Homo sapiens: one gene and its partners. The protein of the gene in region 2 purifies or fractionates together with the protein of the main gene of each other region. This does not show direct contact. Each region holds a gene or a part of one and is shown on either strand. Other genes may lie near its edges. The genes, in order: EIF3B, JOSD2, TYSND1, DAPK3, AHCYL2, SMARCA2 and RAB29.

The links.
Region 1: the proteins of JOSD2 (region 2) and EIF3B purify together in Homo sapiens (affinity purification with mass spectrometry, with the first as the bait; 2 studies listed by BioGRID). This does not show direct contact.
Region 3: the proteins of JOSD2 (region 2) and TYSND1 purify together in Homo sapiens (affinity purification with mass spectrometry; 4 studies listed by BioGRID and IntAct, with this or other methods). This does not show direct contact.
Region 4: the proteins of JOSD2 (region 2) and DAPK3 purify together in Homo sapiens (affinity purification with mass spectrometry, with the first as the bait; 2 studies listed by BioGRID). This does not show direct contact.
Region 5: the proteins of JOSD2 (region 2) and AHCYL2 purify together in Homo sapiens (affinity purification with mass spectrometry; 5 studies listed by BioGRID and IntAct, with this or other methods). This does not show direct contact.
Region 6: the proteins of JOSD2 (region 2) and SMARCA2 purify together in Homo sapiens (affinity purification with mass spectrometry, with the first as the bait; 2 studies listed by BioGRID). This does not show direct contact.
Region 7: the proteins of JOSD2 (region 2) and RAB29 purify together in Homo sapiens (affinity purification with mass spectrometry, with the first as the bait; 2 studies listed by BioGRID). This does not show direct contact.

The regions. Positions count from the first base shown.
Region 1 is NC_000007.14:2,357,827-2,361,326, reverse strand, and holds part of EIF3B (eukaryotic translation initiation factor 3 subunit B), read right to left. Parts: intron 618-3,500; coding exon 425-617; intron 1-424.
Region 2 is NC_000019.10:50,505,498-50,508,191, forward strand, and holds the end of JOSD2 (josephin-2), read right to left. Parts: intron 2,203-2,694; coding exon 2,077-2,202; intron 1,076-2,076; coding exon 881-1,075; intron 776-880; coding exon 676-775; 3' UTR 501-675; downstream 1-500. UniProt on the Homo sapiens protein: Cleaves 'Lys-63'-linked poly-ubiquitin chains, and with lesser efficiency 'Lys-48'-linked poly-ubiquitin chains (in vitro). May act as a deubiquitinating enzyme.
Region 3 is NC_000010.11:70,137,481-70,140,590, forward strand, and holds the end of TYSND1 (peroxisomal leader peptide-processing protease), read right to left. Parts: intron 2,662-3,110; coding exon 2,444-2,661; 3' UTR 501-2,443; downstream 1-500. UniProt on the Homo sapiens protein: Peroxisomal protease that mediates both the removal of the leader peptide from proteins containing a PTS2 target sequence and processes several PTS1-containing proteins.
Region 4 is NC_000019.10:3,964,600-3,968,099, forward strand, and holds part of DAPK3 (death-associated protein kinase 3), read right to left. Parts: intron 393-3,500; coding exon 32-392; intron 1-31. UniProt on the Homo sapiens protein: Serine/threonine kinase which is involved in the regulation of apoptosis, autophagy, transcription, translation and actin cytoskeleton reorganization. Involved in the regulation of smooth muscle contraction.
Region 5 is NC_000007.14:129,231,530-129,235,029, reverse strand, and holds part of AHCYL2 (adenosylhomocysteinase 3), read right to left. Parts: intron 1-3,500. UniProt on the Homo sapiens protein: May regulate the electrogenic sodium/bicarbonate cotransporter SLC4A4 activity and Mg(2+)-sensitivity. On the contrary of its homolog AHCYL1, does not regulate ITPR1 sensitivity to inositol 1,4,5-trisphosphate.
Region 6 is NC_000009.12:2,186,347-2,189,846, reverse strand, and holds part of SMARCA2 (SWI/SNF-related matrix-associated actin-dependent regulator of chromatin subfamily A member 2), read right to left. Parts: intron 1-3,500. UniProt on the Homo sapiens protein: ATPase involved in transcriptional activation and repression of select genes by chromatin remodeling (alteration of DNA-nucleosome topology).
Region 7 is NC_000001.11:205,769,985-205,772,482, forward strand, and holds part of RAB29 (ras-related protein Rab-7L1), read right to left. Parts: intron 1,670-2,498; coding exon 1,488-1,669; intron 871-1,487; coding exon 749-870; intron 470-748; coding exon 358-469; 3' UTR 1-357. UniProt on the Homo sapiens protein: The small GTPases Rab are key regulators in vesicle trafficking. Essential for maintaining the integrity of the endosome-trans-Golgi network structure.

The DNA of each region.
Region 1 (3,500 bases), on a different chromosome or scaffold from region 2:
ATTACCTGTATTTGATAATTCTAGAAACTAAAACTATTCTAGTTAGTTTTTACTTTATTTATTTATTTTAGAGACAGAGTCTTGCTCTGTCACCCAGACTGGAGTACAGCTACGTTATCATAGCTCACTGCAGCCTCCAACTCCTGGCCTCAGGCTTCAAGAGTGTTGGGAGTTTATGCATAAGCCACCATGCTGGCCTATTCTAGATAATTTTAAAAACTTTAAAACCTTAACTTAAAAAAACAAACTTTATCATCTTCTCATTCACTGCTCTGGATAGCTTCCAGCTGAGGGCGGCCTGAAGAAGTGAACGGCCCACGTGCCTGGGCAAGGCAGGAGCTGTGTTAGTAAGGATCTCCTGCAACACTCCCTCATCATGACGTGCCAGACACAGATGATACTTCTCCAACAGGAGAACACTCACCCTTTTGTCTTCCCATCCTCTTCAGGATAAAAATCATTTGTGATTTTCCCAAACTTGGAAAAGATCTTGTGGATGACATTTTTGAGTTTCTCAAGTCGGTCGGGTCCCACCTGAGGGACATTGTCCACTACAATCACCGAATCGATTCCATCTGCTTCCTGGGGCCGATCTTTGAGTACATCTCCCAGTAATTCTGAACAAGAGAGATTTTTCAAATGATCATTTTTACCAAGAAAAACATTAATACATTAACTGAGCACACTAAACAAGTCTTCAAGAAGAGACAATGAATTGTCTAAATGCTTTCACTGTGAGCAAAAGAAATCCTAACCCTAGCTTGTTTCAGATTTTAAACATGACAGCTGGGGGGACTGGAACTCTCCTCTCTCCCTTTGATGGAAATGTAAACAGTCAAGACAGGTCAATTAAGTTCTGGTAATAACCAAAGACTACAGGAGAATAACAGTGAAAAGCTTTTAACAATGCACAATGCAAATGAAGAAGACCATCTCAAGAATATCCACTATTAGATCTTCCAGAGATGCCTAGATTTTGAAAGGTTTGTTGCAACATCTAGGCAGGCAGAATCCCATCCCAATGTCAATGAAAACTGACTTTTTACAGAAGATTTTAGCAAACAAGTAAATATTTAAATGCTCAATATATTCACAGCACATTTGTGCTGTGAATACAAATTACCAGAAATTATTCAAGGAGGAACCCTCTCTCGAGTGAACTGGGATGAAAGTAGTAACTCTTCTCCCACCTCCTGTTCCCAGTGATTTTCATGTTTTCAGGCCGTGAACTGGATGGCCATTCACAGGGGATGGGGAAAAAACCCAAAGAGGAAGCGCGTCTGGGGTGAGCTTCCCCACCTCTCTCCGCTGCAGAGCCCACCACCACGCACCTTCGTTCAGAACAATCTTTACCCAATATTCCTTAGGTTAAAAAGCTCTAAGGATAAACAACTGAACTGCAGGAGACAGGGATGTGACAGTGTCTTTCCTACTCACGTAACACTCAACACAACGCCTGACACCGGACGTGGGTGTCGCATCAAGCAGTTCTCCAGGGGCCACCAGCTGGGTGTCCTCTAACTTAATCCAATTCAGACACTATCTACCAGGAATTAGCATCAGATCCCACAGGCTGAAGGCTCAGCCCCAAAGACTGGCCCCCATTTCAGATGGCAGTCGCAAGTAGTGGGCTGTCACCTCCGGTTCTGACCGACAGGCTACAAAGCAGGGCTCCCACTATCCCTCGCTTCTTGGGTTCCATTAATTTACTGCAGCAGCTTACAGAATTCAGAGAGCTAGGTTTGCCAGCTTATTATAACGGACGTTACAGAGGATATAGACGAAAAGGCAGATGGAGGAGAAGCGCAGAGCCTCCCTGTGCTCTCCAGGCCACCACCCTGCAGAAGCCTCCACCTGTTCCGCTGCATGGAGCCCCTGAACCTGGTCCTTTTGGGTTTCTATGAAGATCTCATTATAGAGGCGTGATTAATGACATCACTGAGCACCGGTGATCAACTCAACTTTCAGCCCTCTTCCTTCTGGGTGGCAGGGGGAGACCTAAAAGGTCCCACCCTCTAATCACGTGGTTGGTTCCCTGGCAAGGAGCCCCAGCCATCAATCAAGTCCTCGTCTACAAAAAGACACTTACCACTTTGGAAATTACAAGGGTTTAGACGCTGAGTGCCAAGAGCCAGGCAGAGCCCAAATACACATTTCTTAATTATATCACAAAGAGCCTTTTTGAAAAACACTATCAGGGCAGAGACCGGCACTTAAACTAGGAGACTGGAGAATATACAAGCTCCTGAAACAACTTTTTTTTTTCTTTGTAAAGAGACAGGGTCTTGTTATGCTGCCCAGGCTAGCCTGGAACTCCTGGGCTCTAGCAATCCTCCTGCCTCAGCCTCCCAAGTAGCAGGGACTACAGGTGGGAGCTGCCACCCCCACTGAGATTAAATAACAGTATTTTTTTCTTAGTGGTAGGTGAAGCTGTTCTTGATGTGATGAAATGCCTCGCAGGGCTGCTGGAAAGCATCACGTGTCAGAATTTAGAACACGGCCAGGCTCAGTGGCTCACGCCTGTAATCCCAGCATTTTGGGAGGCCGAGGCAGGCAGATTACCTGAGGCCAGGAGTTCAAGACCAGCCTGGCCAACATGGTGAAACCTGTCCCTAATAAAAATACGAGAAAAATGATCCAAGCATGGTGGTGGGTGCCTGTAATTCCAGCTACTGGAGAGGCTGGGGCAGGAGAATCGCTTGAACCCAGGAGATGGAGGTTGCAGTGAGCCAAGATCATGCCACTGCACTCCAGCCTGGGAGACAGAGTGAGACTCCATCTCAAATAATAATAATAATGATAATTCCAACATACTAAATATGCAGATGTCCGAAAATATTCTTTACTGTATTTATTCTCAAAAGTTGGCTGGGCATGGTGGCTCACTCCAGCGACAGAGCAAGACTCCGTCTCAAAAAAACACTTTCGGAAATATTGAAAACTGACCCAGCATGGTGGCTCACGCCTGTAATCCCAGCATTTTTGGAAGCCAAGGAAGGCAAATCACATGAGGCCAGGAGTTCGAGACCAGCCTGGCCAACAAGGCAAAACCCCATCTGTATTAAAAATACAAAAAGTAGCCAGGCATGGTGGCACATGCTTATAATCCCAGCTACTTGGGAGGCTGAGGCAGGAAAATCGCTTGAAGCGGGGAGGCAGAGGCTGCGGTGAGCCATTGCACTCCAGTCTGAGCAAGAGAATGAGACTCTGTCTCAAAAAAAAAAAGGAAATATTGAAAATACTGCCTTAAAAAATAATCGCCGTTTTATTTTCAACGATGCTAAAATTGAGACGAACAAGAGAAAAAAAAAGGGAAAAAGGCAGTTGCCAGTCACTGCAGTGCCGGACACCCTGCTATGGAAACTAGTCAAATCCTAGGGTAACTTCTAAAGCACTTACCATACAATTAAATAGCCTGACAAGCCTGATCTGAATTTATAAGGCTGCAATAAAAAGCTCAACTTTTACACAAATTGGGTACTCCTTCCCACAAGCTCAAA
Region 2 (2,694 bases):
AAAATTTAAAGAAAGTAGTCAGGTATGGTGGCATGCACCCGTGGTCCCAGCTACTTGGGAGGCTGAGGTGGGAGGGTCGCTTGAGCCCAGGAGTTCAAGGCTACAGTGAGCTGTGATTGACCCACTGCACTCCAGCCTGGGTGACAGAGTGAGACCCCTGTCTCAATCAATCAATCAAATAAAGAAGTAAACACCTGCTTTCTCCTTAGCAATGACCCCCGTGGAACCCAGGAGATCAAACTCATTTGTTTGCCACTGGTCTCTCTCCAGCACCGGAGGAGCGTGAGCCCCAGGGGGCACGGACTTGTGTTTTTTTCTGCTGTGTCACTGATGAGGAAACTGAGGCCCAGCAGTGAGAAACTGGCATGAGGTGGCAGAGAACCAGGAGGCCTCCTGGGCTCTCGGCCCCACACACCAGGGTGTCTGGCCTGTAAGGTAAGTGGGAGTCACTGAGTGGAAGGGGCCCCAGAAGGGTGGGGCCGTCAGACACAGGCCAGGCAGGCAGCAAATCAGCAGATTTATTGAGGCAGCAGCGGCAGTGGGGAGCAGGGGTGTGGGGAGGGGGCGGGGCCTCCCCAGGGTCCATGAAGTGCTGGCCTTTCCCAGGCATGCAGTGTGCGCAGCCGGAGGGGGATGCGCAGGGACTGCGCTGTGGGCGCCGATGGTCAGCCATGGTCAGTCTGTCCGCAGCCAGCTGCCCTTCTCCTCCACCTCCTTGGTCACTACCAGCAGCACCTCGCACAGGCCCTGGGCCAGCGCAGCCGCCAGGAAGGCCCTGGGTGGGAGAAATGGGGAGACTGAGGCTCGGCCAGCCTGGGCATTCCGTCTGGGGAGTGGGGTTTCAGGCCCCTGGTCTTGGAATCGCCTCTGTGGGGCTCACCTGACTCCGTCCTCATCCCCCAGGGCCTCGGGCGCCCGCAGCTTGGAGTCCAGGTTGTAGTAGACACCGTCCACCTGGCGCAGGGCCACCCAGTGCCGCCGGCGCAGCGGCAGTGACAGCAGCCCCAGCGACACGGGCGAGGGCAGGTTCAGGATCAGCCCCAGTACCTGGGGCAGGGCCAGCTGGGACAGGGGCCTGTGTGGGCAGGGAGGGGACACTGCCATCAGGGCCTGCTCCGCCCGCCGGTGAAATGTTGCTGAACATGTGGGGCCCAGGCTGGTGGTGGTGAGGGCCTCCTGAGCCCACCCAGAGGTGTTCCTTAATCAGCCACCCTGGTTCCCGACACTCATCCGTTCACCTGCCCACTCAAACCTCCCACCCATGCGGCCACCCAACCAGACCTCCCACCCACCCACCCACCGTCCACCCACCCACCCACCGTCCACCCAACTCACATCGGCCCTTCACCAACCACCATCACCCTGTCTGTCCAGCCACCCACCCACCAACTTACCAACTCCTCACACAGCCACCCAGGATCCATGCATGATCCGCCCACCCCACTGAGCCTCCCAGCCACCAGCCAACTTCCCAATGACGATTCACACACTCACCTCCCATCTATGCATTCACTTCCATCCCTCATATACACCCGCCCCACCTCCCCGTCAACCACCCAACCACCATCACCATCCAACTAGCCATCTACTGTTCACCACCCACCACCCACCCACCCACCCACACAGCCGGCCACCACCCAGCCAGCCATTCACCCAACAGTGGACTCGCCATGCCCCCAATCCTCACTCACTCTTGACCCCCCTGCCATTGGTCTACCCCTCATCCACCAGCCACATGCCCAGCCACTGGCCAGCCGGCCATCAAAACTTCCCATTCATCCACCCAACTCCCCAGCCTCCTGTCTGCTGCCCATTGCCCAGGAACACCCATCACTTCACTCCCCCTGACCCAACACATCCAACGGCCTACTCAGCATTCACCCAGTAACCATCATCCACCCAGCATCTCAGCCCATCGACCACCTGATCTCCCCCTTTCAACCCATCAGTGCCAGGCTTCCCACATTCATGCCAACCTCCCCCAGCCACATTCCCCTCCCTGCCCCCCAACAGGCTCACACTATAGGGTGCCCTCTGTGCCCGGCCCAGCACATGCTGTGCTGCTCTGGGGCCTACCTCCTCCTGTCCCACCACACGGCGGCCAGGCCCAGCCCCTGCAGAGCGGCCATGATCACATTGACATCATAGTTGCCGGTGCCCAGGAGGCTGCGATGAGGGTTCAGCCGGGAGTCTGGGGCCAACCTGGTAGTGGGGGTGGCCAGAGCTGAGGTGGGGACCCCTGGAAAGGCCTCCCCACAAAATGGGGGTCCCAGGGGCCACAAGTTGCCTCAGCCTTTGACTCTCCCCGCTTCAGACCCCACAACTCATCCACCCCCAAGTCCTGCCTCTCCTGCCCCAATTCTGCCCTGTCCCCAAGTCCTGTCTCTCCTGCCCTGACTCTGCCCTGTCCCCAAGTCCTGCCTCTCCTGCCCCGACTCTGCCCTGTCCCCAAGTCCTGCCTCTCCTGCCCCAACTCTGCCCTGTCCCCAAGTCCTGTCTCTCCTGCCCTGACTCTGCCCTGTCCCCAAGTCCTGTCTCTCCTGCCCTGACTCTGCCCTGTCCCCAAGGCCCCAGATGGGCTCTGTCTTCTCCCGCAGCCTCCAGCCTCCCTCCAGTCCATTCCCACACGGCCCTGGCCCTCTCCTGCTCTCAGCTCTCCCATGGCTCCCCAATGCCTTGGACAAAGTCCCTGTC
Region 3 (3,110 bases), on a different chromosome or scaffold from region 2:
CTCTCACAGCAAAGTCAGACCTCAGATCTAGGATTCTGCTACCATTAACTTACTGTAGAACTTCTCTTAAACTAGCCATGACCTCTGGACCCATTCCTAATCTGTAAAGGGAGGAACAACCATCCCAGGAGTGTTCTGTGATTGCCCCGTGTTTTAGGAAAAACTCTCCTCAAATCGTGTTTTCCCTCTACTCTCATGCCATCACAATCATCAACACAGAAGACTTCAGTGACCAAATGTGTGTGGGGTTTCCCCACCAAAAGCAGTGGACATCAGCCGGGTGTCCTCTAATTCAGTTCCAACACTATCTACCCAGAGACATTGTCAGACCCCACAGGTTGAGGGTTCAGTCTCCAAGACTGCCCCCCTCAACCACACCAGGCACAAGTCTAGGCCTCCAGAACTTCTGACCAACTGGCTTCAAGTTGAGTTCCCACGACCTCCTTTTTGGGTTCAATTAATTTGCTAGAGTGGATCACAGAGCTCAGAGACACACTTACTTATGTTTACCGGTTTATTATAAAGGATATCGCAAAGGATACAGATGAAGAGATGCACATAGAGCAAGGAATGAGGGAAGGGGAAGGAGTGCAGAGCTTCCGTGCCCTCCCTGGGCACGCCACACTCCAGGAAGTGCCAGGTGTTCAGCTATCCAGAAGCTCTCTGAACCCTGTCCTCTTGGGTTTTTATGGAAGGTTCATGACATCAACATTCCTTCCCCTAGGATTGAGACCCTCTCATGGGAAGGTCTTTAGGACCCACTGTGAAAAAGGTGGGCGAACATTAGTGAAAGGATACCCAGAGGTCAGAGGCCTGTCCCAAGCCCTAACATACCCAGTATTCTAACAAAGACTGGAACAAGGACTATGAGAGTTACGAGTCAGGAATGCTGGATGAAAACCAATATATATCATAACACCACACCCAGCATTGGCACTCAGCACACAGGTGTTAGAAACAAGTTACTCCTAAGCACTCTTCCTGCGTGGCCTCCGCCCACAGCCGCCCCTCACAGGGCTTTCAGCCTGCCAGTAGAAATCACTCGAGGGCCCACACATGCAAGGCCCTGGGCACACGGCACAGTCCTGACTCAAAGAGTTGGCCTCAGCTCCTGGGGGCTGCCCTGGCCTCATTCACCCTTGAACTCCCCAACTGCCACCCACCTTAGGCATTCTTTAAGCATCTGCTGCCAGGTCAAGACCACCACCTTCCGGGACCTGCAAGCCCCACCCAGCTCTGACTGGCACATGACCAGCTATGAGGGCCAGTCTGGCAGGACCGTATCCCGTGAGCTCACACCCTGCTGAGAAAACAGCACAGAAAGGGTGTATTTCTGGGTTGGGCACAGTGGCTCACACCTGTAATCCCAGCACTTTGGGAAGCTGAGGCAGGAGGACTGCTTGAAACCAGAAGGCTGAAGCCAGCACGGGCAACAAAGCAATACCCCATTTCTACAAAAATAAAAAATTAGCCAGGCGTGGTGGTGCGCGACTGTAGTCCCAGCTATTCAGGAGGCTGAGGCAGGAGGTCTCCTGGAGCCCAGGAGTTTGAGGCTGCAGTGAGCTGTGATCGCAACACTGCACTCCAGCCTGGGTGAGAGAGCAAGACCACAGCTCTAAAGAAAAAAAAAAAAAAAAAAGGAAAGGGTGTGTTTCTTTGCCTGGTACTTGCCTATTCCCAGTTCAACTCCTGAAAAAAAGAAACAATTTGATATATAAATACAGAGGTTTTTCAATAGATCATGTTTATTCCCAAGCCCCAACCAGACATGTTCTACCCCTCAAGATCCCTGAGACCCAGGCTGTGGGCTGGAAAATGAAGGCACAGTGTCAAGAGCGCCCCTGTTGGCATATGAAGACCCAGGAGTGCTGACCTTCAGGGATCTGCCTGCACTGCCCATGGGCCTGGCACAGCAGGAGGCACTCCTGTTTCTGTCCCTTCTGTCTCTGGTCTTCAGAGCAAGGTTTCTGCTGAGATGCTAAGGAAGCTGAGTCCTTTGTCAGCCCTGACTCTGACTGAGAGGCAGACAGGAGCCAAGGCCCCATTGAAGCTCCAGGATGACGATGGCCCTCAGGGGAACAGACGCAAAACCAGGCACGGGCCTGCCTTCCAGCTGGAATCTACCTGTCAGGCCCAGAACTTCTGTGCAGTTGGAGTGGGCTCCCCAGAAGGAAAAACAATACAGCTGAGTCTAGTGCTAGGGGACAGAGAACTGGGGGCTCAAGAAAGCACCCCAAAACGGGCTGCCAGGTTAAGGATCCATGGGGCTGAAGAGAAGTTTGCCCCAGAGCCCAAAGCCCAGTCTGCAGTCAGTGGGTGGAGATGAGAGGCAGCCTGGGCCCCTGCAGGGGCTGGGCCCTGAATCCTGAGGCCACCGTCACCTCAACATCACTTCCTACAGCAGAAAAAGGTCACTCTTCTTTCCAAAGGTGGTAACACAGCCTCAGAGCTTGCTCCGCGGGGCCTCTGCCAGGGGCCGCTGCAACCGCCACACCACCCTGACTGGCTCAGCAGCGCGGTCCAGCTCACGGAGGCCACCTAGGTCTTGGGTCTGGCTGTACTGCTGCAGGGCCGGCTGGAGCACCGTGATGGGAATGCTGAAGTTCAGGTGGGGGTAGGTGGCCCCCGTATTATTGTCCCGGGTGTTGCTGGTGATTATGCCTGTTGAGGAGTCAGAGAGCAAAAGAGGATGTGAGCCAGGGGGCAGAAAGGCTGGAGAAGGGAGGAGGACCATCTCCACCCTGGAGCCCCCAGGGCCTGGTAGGGCTGGATACCACCCCACGTGGTGACAGACGCTGAGCTTCTAGACATGAACACCTGCTGCCCACACCCTTTCCTGGCTTTACGTTTTCTCCTTAACACTCTCAAAATCTAACACACTAGATAGTTCACTTATTTCACTTGTTATCTTTCTCTCGACCTAGTGTCAGCTCCATAAGGGCAGGACTTTGAGGTTTTGTTCATGCAGTCTCCCCAGTACCTGAAACAGTGCCTTGTGCCAAGTAGGCGCGCAACAAAGGCTTGTTGAATGAATGAATGAATGAATGAATGAATGAATGAATGAATGAATGAATCAGACCCACAGACATATTTTGTTTGGCCTGCTCGGT
Region 4 (3,500 bases), about 47 Mb from region 2:
GGCCGGCCCCACAGGGCCCTACAGGGCTCACCTTCAGGTCAAAGTGTGCGATGCGCTTAGAGTGCAGGTAGTGAACGCCGTCCAGGATCTGCTTGAGGAACTGGGTGGCCTCGTCCTCCGTCAGCGACTCCTTCTCCGCCAGGAAGTCAAAGAGCTCCCCGCCAGAGACCAGCTCCAGGATGAGGACCACGTCCGTCTTGTTCTCGAAGATGTCGTGCAGGGTGATGATGTTGGGGTGCCGGATCTCCCGCAGGATGTTCACCTCCCGCTCGATCTCCTCCCGGCTCACCCCACGCCGGCTGGATGACAGGCGGCGCTTCTTGATGAACTTGGCTGCGTACTCCTTGCCCGTGCCCTTCTGCCGGCACTTCCGCACGATCGCAAACTGGCCGCTGGAGGAGGGGGAGGGAGTGAGTGGGGGTGGAGGAGGCGGAGGGAGTAAGTGGGGGTGGCTGGCTCCCCGTCACCTCCACTTGCTCCTCTTGGGCGCGGCCCTGCACCAGGCACTTGAAGGACATGAGCTGGCCACTGCGGGGGTGCAGACTCTGCGCCTTCTCAGAGAGCAATTCCTTAGCGCCCCACACCATCAGACGCGGCGTTCCCACCCCTCCCAGGGCTATGCCCAGCAGGTGTGTGGAGGGGAGTGCAGAGCCACACGTTAACACCATGGCACCGGCGTATTTTTGAAAAGTGAAAGAATGAACAGTTCAATGCATATCAAGAGGGAACTGAGGGGGCCAGGCGCGGTGGCTCACGCCTGTAATCCCAGCACTTTGGGAGTTCGAGGAGGGCAGATAACTTGAGCTGAGGAGTTCAAGAGCAGCCTGGCCAACATGGTGAAACCCTGTCTCTACCAAAAATACAAAAAATTAGCTGGGTGTGGTGGCGGGTGCCTGTAATCCCAGCTACTTGGGAGGCTGAGGCAGGAGAATCGCTTGAACCTGGGAGGCAGAGGTTGCAGTGAACTGAGATTGTGCCACTGTACTCCAGCCTGGGCAACGTAGCAAGATCCTGCCTCAAAAAAATAAAAAGTGCAAGGCAAGTGCCAGATCCGCTTTTTTTGTTTTTGTTTTGTTTTGTCTTGAGACAGGGTCTGGCCCTGTTGCTCAGGCTGGAATGCAGTGGTTCAGTCATGGCTCACTGCAGCCTTGACCTCCTGGGCTCGGGCAATCCTCCTGCCTCAGCCTCTCAAGCAGCTGGGACTACAGGCACATACCACCACACCCAATTAATTTTTTTTTCTTTTTGTAAGGATGAGGTCTCACTATGTTGCCCACGCTGGTCTCGAACTCCTGGGCTCAAGTGATCCCTCCCAAGTAGGTGGGACTACAGGAACACACTACCACACCTGATTTATTTATTTTTTGTAGAGACAGGGTCTTGCCGTATTGCCCAGGCTGCTTTGGAACTCCTGGCCTCAAGAGATCCTCCCACTCCCCCACCCCAAGTGTTGGCAGTACAGGTGGAGCCGCTACATCTGGCCAGTATCCGCATTTTAAAGAAACCAAGGCTGAGAAAAGGAAAGCAACTAGCCCAAGGTCATGCAGTCAGTCAGTGGCGGGAGGATTCAAACCTTCAAACCAGGTGCTGCAGGCTCCAGAGCCCAGGTGCTCTAACAGGAAGCAGACAGCTGCTGCTGGGTACCGGGTTCCTGCGTGCCTACCTCCCGGCTCCACGCTGTCTCCTGCTAACAGACCCAGCTGTCCCAGGGCAGCCTTTGCCGCTCACTCTCAGTCTGTGGGACTCAGTGGCCCAGGAAAGGGGTGGAAGGGGACACGACTGGACCTGGGCAAGCAGAAAACCACGCCTTCCAGCCCAAAGAGACCGGTCCAGTCCACAGGGCTCTGAACGCCTGCTGGGAAGAGAGGATCTCTCTCTCCCTCTGCTGGGCTTGGATCCAGGCTCGCGGCAGGGGCCACCACGTAGAAGGCTACCTAAGAAGCCTGCCTAAGAACAGACCAGGCCAGGAGAGGGGAGCCACCAGGCACTGCGGGTGGCACATAAGCCCCGTCATTCACTCTGCCAGGGCGCCTCCTCCATGCTGGAGTGGACTTCGGCCCCGGGGACACAGGGCACCATATGCACCAGCACCCAGTCACACCTGCGGCCGCTGCACACCTGGACAACCTGGTTCTGTAAACCACGCCTTTCCCTGTTTTGCTATTGCCAACCAGATTTCAGGTTCTGCCACTGAGTCCTCCTACAGCAACAGCAGACCACAGCCGCCCACCTCCAGACAGCCCCCGGTCTCACTGGCCACAGACTTGCTCCTTAGAGGCAAGGCCACTGGCAGGCTCTCAGTTCCTCTACGGAATGTGAAACGTGCCTCATCTCCCCAGCCGGGAAAGAAACTCCCCAAGAGCTGAGCCCACCCTCTTCGCTTCTCTGTAACTTCCCCAGCCCCCAGCGCAGGTGGGGGCACAGCAAGCCCTCCTCAGTGATGGTCTCAGGTGTCACTCCCAACCCACTTCCTAAGTGCCTGCCACAACCCAGACACGACCCAAGCGTGGCCTACACACCGACAATTTCTACTGATAGAGTTCATGATGTTTAAAAATGCGGGCTGGGAAGCCGGGCACAGTGGCTCACGCCTGTAATCCCAGCACTTTGGGAGGCAAAAGCGTGCAGATCACGATGTCAGGAGTTCAAGACTAGCCTGACCAACATAGTGAAAGCCACGTCTCTACTAAAAATACAAAAACATTAGCCGGGCGTGCTGGCAGGCATCTATAATCCCAGCTACTCGGGAGGCTGAGGCAAGGAGAATCGCTTGAACCTGGGAGACGGAGGTTGCAGTGAGCTGAGATTGCGGCATTGCACTCCAGCCCGGGCGACACTGCAAGACTCCGTCTCAAAAAAAAAGTGTGGGCTGGGGCCAGGCACAGTGGCTCACACCTGTAATCCCAGCACTTTGGGAGGCAGAGGCGGGCAGATCATTTGAGGTCAGGAGTTCAAGACCAGCCTGGCCAACATGGCAAAACCCCGTCTCTACTAAAAATACAAAAATTAGCTGAGCACGTTGGTGGGCGCCTGTAATTCCAGCTACTTGGAAGGCTGAAGCAGGAGAATCACTTGAACCCGGGAGGCGAAGATTGCAGTGAGCCAAGATGGCACCACTGCACTCCAGTCTCGGCAACAGAGCCAGACACCGTCTCAAACAAACAAACAAAAATTGCTACATTCTGGGCCTTCATCTTGCACTTCATGTATCTCTGAGAATGTTCCAGACCACTACCTGAAGCAGTGCCGTCAGAACAGCAGACACTGGCCACCCAGAGCTGTCAAACCCGTGAGGTGTGGCCAGTCCCGAGAAAAACTGCGACATGAAATACACACCAGACCTCCAAGGCTTCACGGCAAAAACAGAAGGCTAAATACTTTTTTTAAAATTATGAATTTCTGTTTGTTTGAGAGATGGGGGTCAACTTATGTTGCCCAGGCTAGTCTTGAAGTCCTGGGCTCAAGCGATCCTCCCGCCTTGGCCTCCCAAAGCGCTAGAA
Region 5 (3,500 bases), on a different chromosome or scaffold from region 2:
GAGTGAGTTAAGGAATTCATGAGAGGAAAAAAGCACATATAGCATGTACTGAAAACTCCTTTAAGAAGCATGCCTGTGAAAGAGAATAGAAAAACATGACAGCAACAGAAAATATGCAGGTCAAAGGACAGGGTTTTCAAAATGGGAGACAATAGGGCAAGTGTGAATTCTGAAGGAAAAGACCTAGTAGAAAGATGAAATAAACCAAAGGAAGAAATTCTTTAAGACAGGAGAGGCCAAGCACAGTGGCTCACACCTGTAATCCCAGCACTTTGGGAGGGTGAGGCAGAAGGACTGCTTGAAGCGAGGAATTCGAGGCCAGCCTGGGCAACAAAGTGAGACACCATCTCTACAAAAAGTTTTTAAAATGTGGCTGGGTGCAGCGGCTCATGCTTATAATCCCAGTACTTTCAAAGGCCAAGGAGGAAGGATCACTTGAAGCTGGGAGTTCAAGACCAGCCTAGGCAACATAGCAAGAGACCCCATCTTGGCCAGGTGTGGGCTCGCGCCTGTAATCCCAGCACTTTGAGAGGCCAAAGTGGGCAGATCACAAGGTCAGGAGTTCCAGACCAGCCTGGCCAACCTGGTGAAACCCCGTCTCTACTAAAAATACAAAAATTAGCCAGGCACAGTGGCGGATGCCTGTAATCCCAGCTACTTGAGAGGCCGAGGCAGCAGAATTGCTTGAACTCACGAGGCGGAGGTTGCAGTGAGCCGAGATAGTGCCACTGCAGTCCAGCCTGGGTGACAGAGTAAGGCTCCATCTAGGGGGAAAAAAGAGACCCCATCTCTACAAGAAAGTCATAAAAAAATTAGCCAGGTATGGTGGCATGCACCTATAGTCCCAGCTACTCGGGAGGCTGAGAAGGGAGGTTCTATTGAGCTCAGGAGGTTGAGGGTGCAATGAGCTATGACCACACCACTGCACTCCTGCCTGGGCTACAGAGTGAGACTTCATCTCTTGAAGAAAAATGAATGAAAACAAAGAGAAAGAGAGAGAAGAAAGATAGAAAAAGAAAGGAGGAGGAAGGGGGGAGGGGGAGAAAAGAATGATTACAGCACCTGTGAAGGGATTGGTCTTGACAGAATGAAGGAGAAAAAGATGAGTCCCAGATGCACATAGGTTTGTAGACTTGGGAGGTAAAAGAATGAAGGAATTCCCATTCAGCAGCTTCCATTTTTATAATGAGGCATAAAGCCTATGACTGGTTAAAAAAGAAGAAAATATGAGAGATTAGAAATAAGAGCTGGGCACGGTGGCTCATGCCCATAATCTCAGCACTTTGGGAGGCTGAGGAGGGCGGATCACGAGGTCAGGAGATTGAGCCATTCTGGCGAACACGGTGAAACGCCATCTCTACTAACAATACAAAAATTAGCTGGGCGTGGTAGTGCGTGCCTGTAGTCCCAGCTACTCATGAGGCTGAGGCAGGAGAATCGCTTGAACCCGGGAGGCGGAGGTTGCAGTGAGCGGAGATCGCGCCACTGCACTCCAGCCTGGGGACAGAGCAAGATTCCATCTCAAAAAAAGAGAAAAAGAAATAGAGACAGTAGGCCAGGCACAGTGGCTAATGCCTATAATCCCAGCACTTTGGAAGGGTGAGACAGGAGGATCACTTGAGCCCGAGAATTGGAGACCTGCAACATGGCAAGATACCGTCTCTACAAAAAAATAAAAAAATAGCCAGGCGTGGTAGCACACTTGTAGTTCTGGCTACTCAGGAGGCTGAGACAGGAGGATTGCTTGAACCAGGGAGTTTGAGGCTACAGTGAGCTGTGACTGTACCACTGCACTCCAGCCTGGGTGAGAGAGGGAGACCTTGTCTCAGTAAAAAAGAAAAGAGAAAGAGACAATATGAAGAAATAATTCGCAGTGAGCTGGAAAGTGAACTAGAGAAATGTATAACATTGCTAGGTAATGCTGATTATGCATATGAAATAGATGATTATAAATTTTTAATGACACTGATCTGTCTAATTTGCTGATTTTCTCTAGCAACTCTCAGCTCCATGAGTGCCAGCAACTAAGAAGGTAGATGGTTAGGTTCAACCCGTACATCACTCCAAGTTCTACAAGCAGCAGAAGTCAACACTGGCTGAATTAAACAGAAAAAGAATTTACAGAAAGGATATGAGGTCACTTTTTCAGTGAAGAACTTAAGTGCTACACAGCTAAAACAACACTCAAAATTACAGAACTGGGTTGGCAAAGATGTGATTGCTAATGCCAAGCAGGAGATGCTGCAGCTTGGTTTGCACCATCACAGTTCTGGATACTAAGTGCTAACACTTGCCACTGTTGCCCTTATAACTTGATCTTGCTGCTAGAGACTGATACTACATGTGAATCTGCTGATCAAGGAGGGGGATATTGTAAAGAACATGGTGGAACAGTTTGAGGGACTGAATCAGCTGAAGGATGAAGAGAGTGGTAAAGGAATTAGTATTGGGAAGATAATGGATGGCGGATGGCGGGTAGTGACTGAAACAAACAGGGATGTGAGGCATGGTGTTTAGGCCTCCCCTTGAAAGAGGCTAGATTGTGAGATCCAAAGTGGTCTTAGCAGCAGCTTAAGCAGACTTCAGTGGGAGTCTGGTCAGAGCAGCACGGGTGTTGGCACAGAGGCAAAGCTGCCCAATATTGCTATGGCCAGCATTTCATTGACAAAGCCTTGGACAAGTTAATTACTCTCTTTGAGCCTATATTTTCTTATCCATAATATAAAGATAGTACTACACATCTGATAAAGTTGTCATGAGGATTAAATACTAAGACAGAGATTCCTGACACGGAGTAAGTATTCAGTAAATGGTAGCAATTATAAGTGACACTGAAGCCAAGAGAAGAGTTTCCAAGAAAAGGTAGTCAATAGATGAAGTTTCACCTTGGAGCACTGTAGAATGTAAGTGTGTGCAGAGAAGATGAAGCTAGTTTTAGCCTCAGGTTTGCAACATTCAGAAAGGCTAAAGTCCTATACTCAGAGAAACTCAATCAGCAGTTCAAATACCCTTCCTTTATATAGGTTCTAAGCTAAGAACTAGGTGCCCCAAACCAATAGATTTCTACTGATAGACCCTTGAAAAAAAAAAAGAAAATAAAATCACCAGCTTTTAGTGCAAGCGTCCAAGAGGGAAATAGCTAACTGAACTGTTGCACGATACAGCTGGGGAAAAGGGAGACTGAAACCCATACAAATAATCATCTAATTTAATCAAAGTAATTTTAGAGTTGGGAACTGTTACAGAAGAAACGTCAATCCACTGCCGCTTTCTGCTCTGCTCTCACCAAATCGCAGGCCATAGGTCATTCAGACTATAAAAAGCTCCTACAAATTCCATAGAAATCTGATCAAGTTTACTAAACCTCTTGTTGGGTGAATGGAATTTCAGCTCCTCTAATTGTGTCTACCACCTAAACATGACAGCAGGGCAGTGGATCAGGGCAACTGCCAAGATTGTTCTCTTCCCATCTGCCTCAGTTGTACCTCTCTAAATTATTT
Region 6 (3,500 bases), on a different chromosome or scaffold from region 2:
CCACAGAAACATAAGCTAACAGAAGAGATGAGAGCTGTGCTGTTATGAACTCAAGTGTGGTGGTAGCATTTGCCTTTCCTCCATTCCAAATCCTAATACACAAAATAGTACTCCTAGCCAAGGCTTCTATCTATTATACCCACTGTCTGCTGCTTGACAAGCTATAAGGTGGGGCCCTTTGCTTTGGGTGGAGTAACTTAGGAGAAGAAGAAGAGACTGGAGATGAAAAGGCCTACCTACTAATGAAAACGGAAAGATGTAGGACGTCGAAAGAAATAGATGAAAGAAGCCAGTCATAATGGGCATTTCTAAACAGTGTGGAAAGACAAAGTGAAATATGTCCATTTATACAGGTGTGGGCTCTCCCTGACACAGGAGTATAGGAAATGAATGGGCAGAAGACAGGCAATAGGGGTAAGAAAATGTATCCTTGAGAGCGTAATCTAAATGTGCCTTGGAGTGTGGCGCACTCTAATGCTGTCAGGCACGCGTCAGTGGATATGTCTCTCCAAAAAACCCACCTGACAGACTATGGACAAGCAGGCTAATAAACTGGACCATTAGGTGAGCCCTATAAACAGCTTCCTAAGGTTTTATGATACAACCATATGCACCTATGAAAAGTTCTAGCTACCAAGTGTGGTGGACAGAATATCATCTCCTCACAAGATGTCCATATCCTAATCCAAGAACCTCTGAATATGTTATATTACATGGCAAAAGGAATTTTAGACTGTTAATTGTCTGACCCTGAGATGGGGAAATTATAGTGGATTATCCAGGTGGGCCCAGTCTAATCATCTGCATCCTTAAACGTGGAAGAGGAAGACGCAAAAGAGAGATTCATGGAGACACAACATGAGAAGGACTGTACCTGTCATTGCTGGCTTTAAAGTTGGAACAAGGGGTAGGGGTGGGGAGGCAATGAGCCAAAGAACACTGTTGGGAACAGCCTTCCACTGGCAGCCAGCAAGAAAGTGGGAACTTTGTTTCTACGAACACAAGAAATTGAACTCTGCTGAGAACCAGGATGAACAAGGAAATGGGATTCCTATCTAGAGCATCCAGAAAGGAATGCAGGCTGCTGACACATTGATCTTAGTCCAGGGAGACTCATGCTGAACCTGTGACCCACAAGAGGTAATAAGTTTGTGTTGTATTAAAGTCACTAAGTTTGTGGTAATTTGTTATAGCAGCAATAGAAAATTAATATACCAAGGCTTGAGAAATTAAACTAAATTGATGGATGGGGGAAGAGAGCAGCTCTTTGAAAACAGATTAGAAATCTGGCTCTAAAATAATGAAATATATAGCTAAAATAGATGATGCAGATGTATTCAAATGCTAGAACAAAGGAATAACTACATGAATTTGGGACAGTTTAAATTCATAACAAATAAAAGGCAGAATCACTAACTAGAATATAGATAATAGAAAATGACGTTGGGAAAGAGTCGCTTATGTATGTTGAGGGCAAGAATGGAAACTCCATTCTCTGTGGCAATGTGTATACATCACATACATTTTACATCTTTTCAATAATCTATGGGTAAAATGCTCAGGACAGCATTATTGGGAAACAGCCTGATTAACAGAGTATAATTAACACGTTACAGTACATTCACATTCATTAATGAATGTTAATATGTATTATACATATTAATATATGTTGCTGTAGAAAAACCCTCATTGCCATGGAAAGTGTTCATAATAAGTACAAAAATCATTACATTTTCCAAATCATCTGTATTAACATGTAATTAGAAACCTAATAATTTTTTAAAAGCATGTCTATACTTTTAATATATTTGAAAAGGTAAAAAAACGTGTAATTCTATATCTCTACATACATGTAATATTTTGAGACGTTACCTTTTTTTCCACACATAAATTTGTTTATAAAAACATAGCACACAGTTTTGTGGCATGATTTTTGTACTTATTATGAATATATTGATCAGGCTTGTCTCAAACTGGTGACTTCAAGTGATCCAGCCACCTCAGCTTCCCAAAGTGCTAGGATTACAGGCATGAGCCACTGGGCTCGGCTTATACTGTAAAACATAGGTTTTAGTACTTTACTTTGAGAGGTATACAGTGAAGACACACATAGGAAAGAAGAAATTTTATGTTTTAAAATATTTATTAATTATATTTAAAATTTTTTTTTTAGATAGAGTTTTGTTCTGTTGCCCAGGCTGGAGGGCAGCGGTATGATCATAGCTCACTGCAGCCTTGAACACCTAGACTAAGCAATCCTCCTGCCTCAGCTTCCTGAGTAGCTGGGACTATAGACACGTGCCACCACACTTGGCTATTTCTTTTTACAAACATTTTTGTAGAGATAGGGTCTTGCTATGTTATCCAGGCTGGTCTTGAACTCCTAGCCTCAAGCTATCCTTCTGCCTCAGCCTCCCAGAGTGCTCGGATTATATTTGTGAGCCAACATGCCTCACTAAGAAGAAATTTTCAACTTCTGACAGCACCCTTAACCTTTGGAATATTTGGGTTATCAGTCACGGCTGGAACTAGGGTCAAACAATGGAGGCACGCACCTTGGGTGTAAAATTTAAGGGGGCACCAAAACCCAGTCATCAACTAATATCCTAAAAGGTAAATATTTTAAAAACCCAAATTAATGCCCCCCAAATCCATGATAAACAAACTATCAACATTTTAAATAAAGACAGTACCCTGTCATCACCCCTCTTCCCCTGGCAAAAAAAAAATTCTATGCAAAATTCACAGTTCCAACTCAGTTTGACAATTATTTTCTAAAGCTGTGATTCTCAAGGTGTGGTCCTTGGCCCAACATCATCAGTTCCCCCTGGGAATTTGCCAGAAATACGGATTCTCAGGCCCCACAACAGGCTACTGGATCAAACACTGGCATATTCTTCAAGCCCTCCAGGTTTGAGAACCACCGTGGTAAAGAAGAGAAGATAGGTGGCATTAGCAGCAGTGTTGTAGAAAATGTGTAGTAGGCTAATATTCAAAGGCAACATTCAGAAAGTGTTTGCAGGTCAGGTGTGGCGGCTTGTGCCTATAATCCCAGCACTTTGGGAGGCCGAGGCGGGTGGATCACGTGAGGCCAGGAGTTTGAGACCAGCCTTGCCAACATGGTGACACTCCATCTCTACTAAAAATATAAAAATTAGCCGGGCGTGGTGGCACACGCCTGTAATTCCAGCTACTCGGGAGGCTGAGGCAGGTGAATCACTTGAACCTGGGAGGTGGAGGTTGCAGTGAGCTACTGGGAGGTGGAGGTTGCAGTGAGCTAAGATCATGCCACTGCACTCCGGCCTGGGTGACAGAGTGAGACCCTGTCTCAAAAATAAATAAATAAAAGAAATAAAACAGTGTTTGCTAGGAGCCCAGCCTATGCTAAACATTTTACATGCTTGGAGGTCATTTTTATGACCTCAGTTTTATAGATGAGAAAACTGAGCATGAGCAGGGATAAGGACATGGCCACCGGTTGCCCAGCAAGGACAAAGTGG
Region 7 (2,498 bases), on a different chromosome or scaffold from region 2:
ATCAAATGGAAAAATAAGCTCAGAAGTAGGTGAGAATTATGATCTCTAAAACGCAGGTGCTGATTTCTAATCCTTCTCATAAAATTCCGGATCACAAATTGAGGGCTGATGAGAAGATCTTACACCGAAGGCACTAACTGGCACTAATGTGAGCCAGCAACATGTGAAAGGCTAATCCAGGAGATGCAGAAATGCACATGGGTTCCAGGTGTCTTTTCTAAGTGACAATGGGCCTCCTTACTGGACAGTAGTCAGGAGACAATTCAAATGTACTTAATAAAATTGTCAGGTGGGCAACCAAAGGGAAGAGACTTAAAAGACCTCCCAGAACTGGGATGGAAAATAAGCCAAACACTACTAGCAGCAGGACCAGCTGGAGGACTTGGTTTGTAGATTGATGTAGTCCCCTTGGGTGGACAAAGACATGATATCTTCTGTGGAATTTCTCATCATCTTTTCAATGAGGACTCTAAAAGACAAAAAATAAGCCTGAGAAGCTTATTTTGGAGGAAAAGCAGAAATGGCAGATGTAGTCTGACTTATCATCAGAGAGTATTTGGTAAAGCCAGAAGGTTTAAATGCCCCTTTGTCCCCAGTTATCTCAGGAAAGACAGTATCCCTGACCTTTAGGGGCTAGCATTCCAATGGCTCAGTCTGTCATTGTTGGCTCAGAAATAAGAAAAGAGGGTCCACAGGGCCACAGTGGAAGATGGATACATCTGCATGCCTATCAGCATGAGCTACTTACCTCATAGCCTCATTAATATTTTTGTTCTCCTTGACTGATGTTTCTGTCCAACCTGTGAAACCGTTCTCTTTACTGAACCGGTCAATCTGGTCCCGGCTCACTGCCCAAGGGGACAGATCACACTAGCAAAGAGAAAAAATAAAAGGCAGTATCATAAACTTCCTGCAACTAAGAAAGAATATGGCTCAGATACTGTGGATTTTAAACATATTTCCACCAATGGATAAGAACACCAGCATCGGAAATCTATAATCAACATTCTTCCCAAAGAAAGTCTCACCCTTGGCTGGGCGCAGTGGCTCACGCCTGTAATCCCAGCACTTTGGGAGGCTGAGGCGGGCAGATCATGAGGTCAGGAGAGCGAGACCATCCTGGCTAACACAATGAAACCCAGTCTCTACTAAAAATACAAAAAAATTAGCTGGGTGTGGTGGTGGGCACCTGTAGTCCCAGCTACTCGGGAGGCTGAGGCAAGAGAATGGCGTGAACCTGGGAGGCAGAGCTGGCAGTGAGCCGAGATCGCGCCACTGCACTCCAGCCTGAGCAACAGAGCGAGACTCCGTCTCAAAAAAAAAAAAAAGAAAGAAAGTCTCACTCACCCTCAACATCCTTTGAAGGAGGTAGAGATGATTTTGCCAACTTAAGAAGGGGAAATGGATGCCCAGAATCAGAGAGCATTTTACTTCCTTTCTAACCACAGATAGAGGCTAGGGACCATTTTCTGAGATTGGCCACATACCTTGTTGGCCAAGAGCAGGCAGGGCACCGGCTCTCCATTGGGTAGTGTGAGCTTGCTGTCTAGGTCCTGTTTCCACCTCTGGCTGTTGCTGAAGGTAGTGGCATTGGTAACGTCAAACATAATAACACAGGCAGAGGCATCCCGATAATACAATCGTGTCATAGAGGTGAAGCGCTCCTGCCCTGGGGAGAAAGGGGAGAGTTCTCAAGGTGACCCAAGAGCCGGCCTCTCCCCATTCCTTGTAGAAGAGGGCAGTAAGCATATGTGTCAGATGGGGCCACTCACTTTCCCCCTCTGACTCTTGGTTTTCTATCCCATAAAGGGATAATGAAGCCCAATTATTTCCAAGGCAGATTCCGCACCCAGATTGCTCCAGTCCAAATCCCTGCTCTGCTGCATACTATTTGACTTCGGGCAAATCAAGCTCTCAGTGCTTCAGATTTCTCATTTGTAAAGTGAAGATAAAAGCAGTCGCTTTTTTTTTTTTTTTTTGAAACAGTTTCCTGCACTCCTGTTGCCCAGGCTGGAGTGCAGTGGTGCCATCTAGGCTCACTGCAACCTCCACCTCCCAGGTTCAAGCAATTCTCCAAAAGCAGTAGCTTTTATGATAGGGTTGATGTGAGGATTAATGAGTCAGTGAATTTAAAATACTTAGAAGAATGCTTGGCACATAGTAAGGATTCACTATTTTTACTGTATCTATTTTCTGGGGATCTTGTTTTTCACCAAGGTCAGCCTTAAACCTAGAAAAAGCACCCTCCCCTGCTGTGGGAGTGTCCACCTATAGTCTGGACAATCCACCACCTTGCCAGCCCCTCCATCCACATAGAGACTGCTCCAGATCTATTCAGGGCAAAACATCTACAAAAGCTCTGCACCTATTCAGCTCATGTGTCCTCAGAGCAGCTCAATCATTCCAGCTTCAGAAAAACAATTTCTGGCTTTGCTGCCCCATTTTTTCCTCAGAGCTTTCTAGTTAAATCAAAATTTCTTCCCTTGTTCCTATCTAGC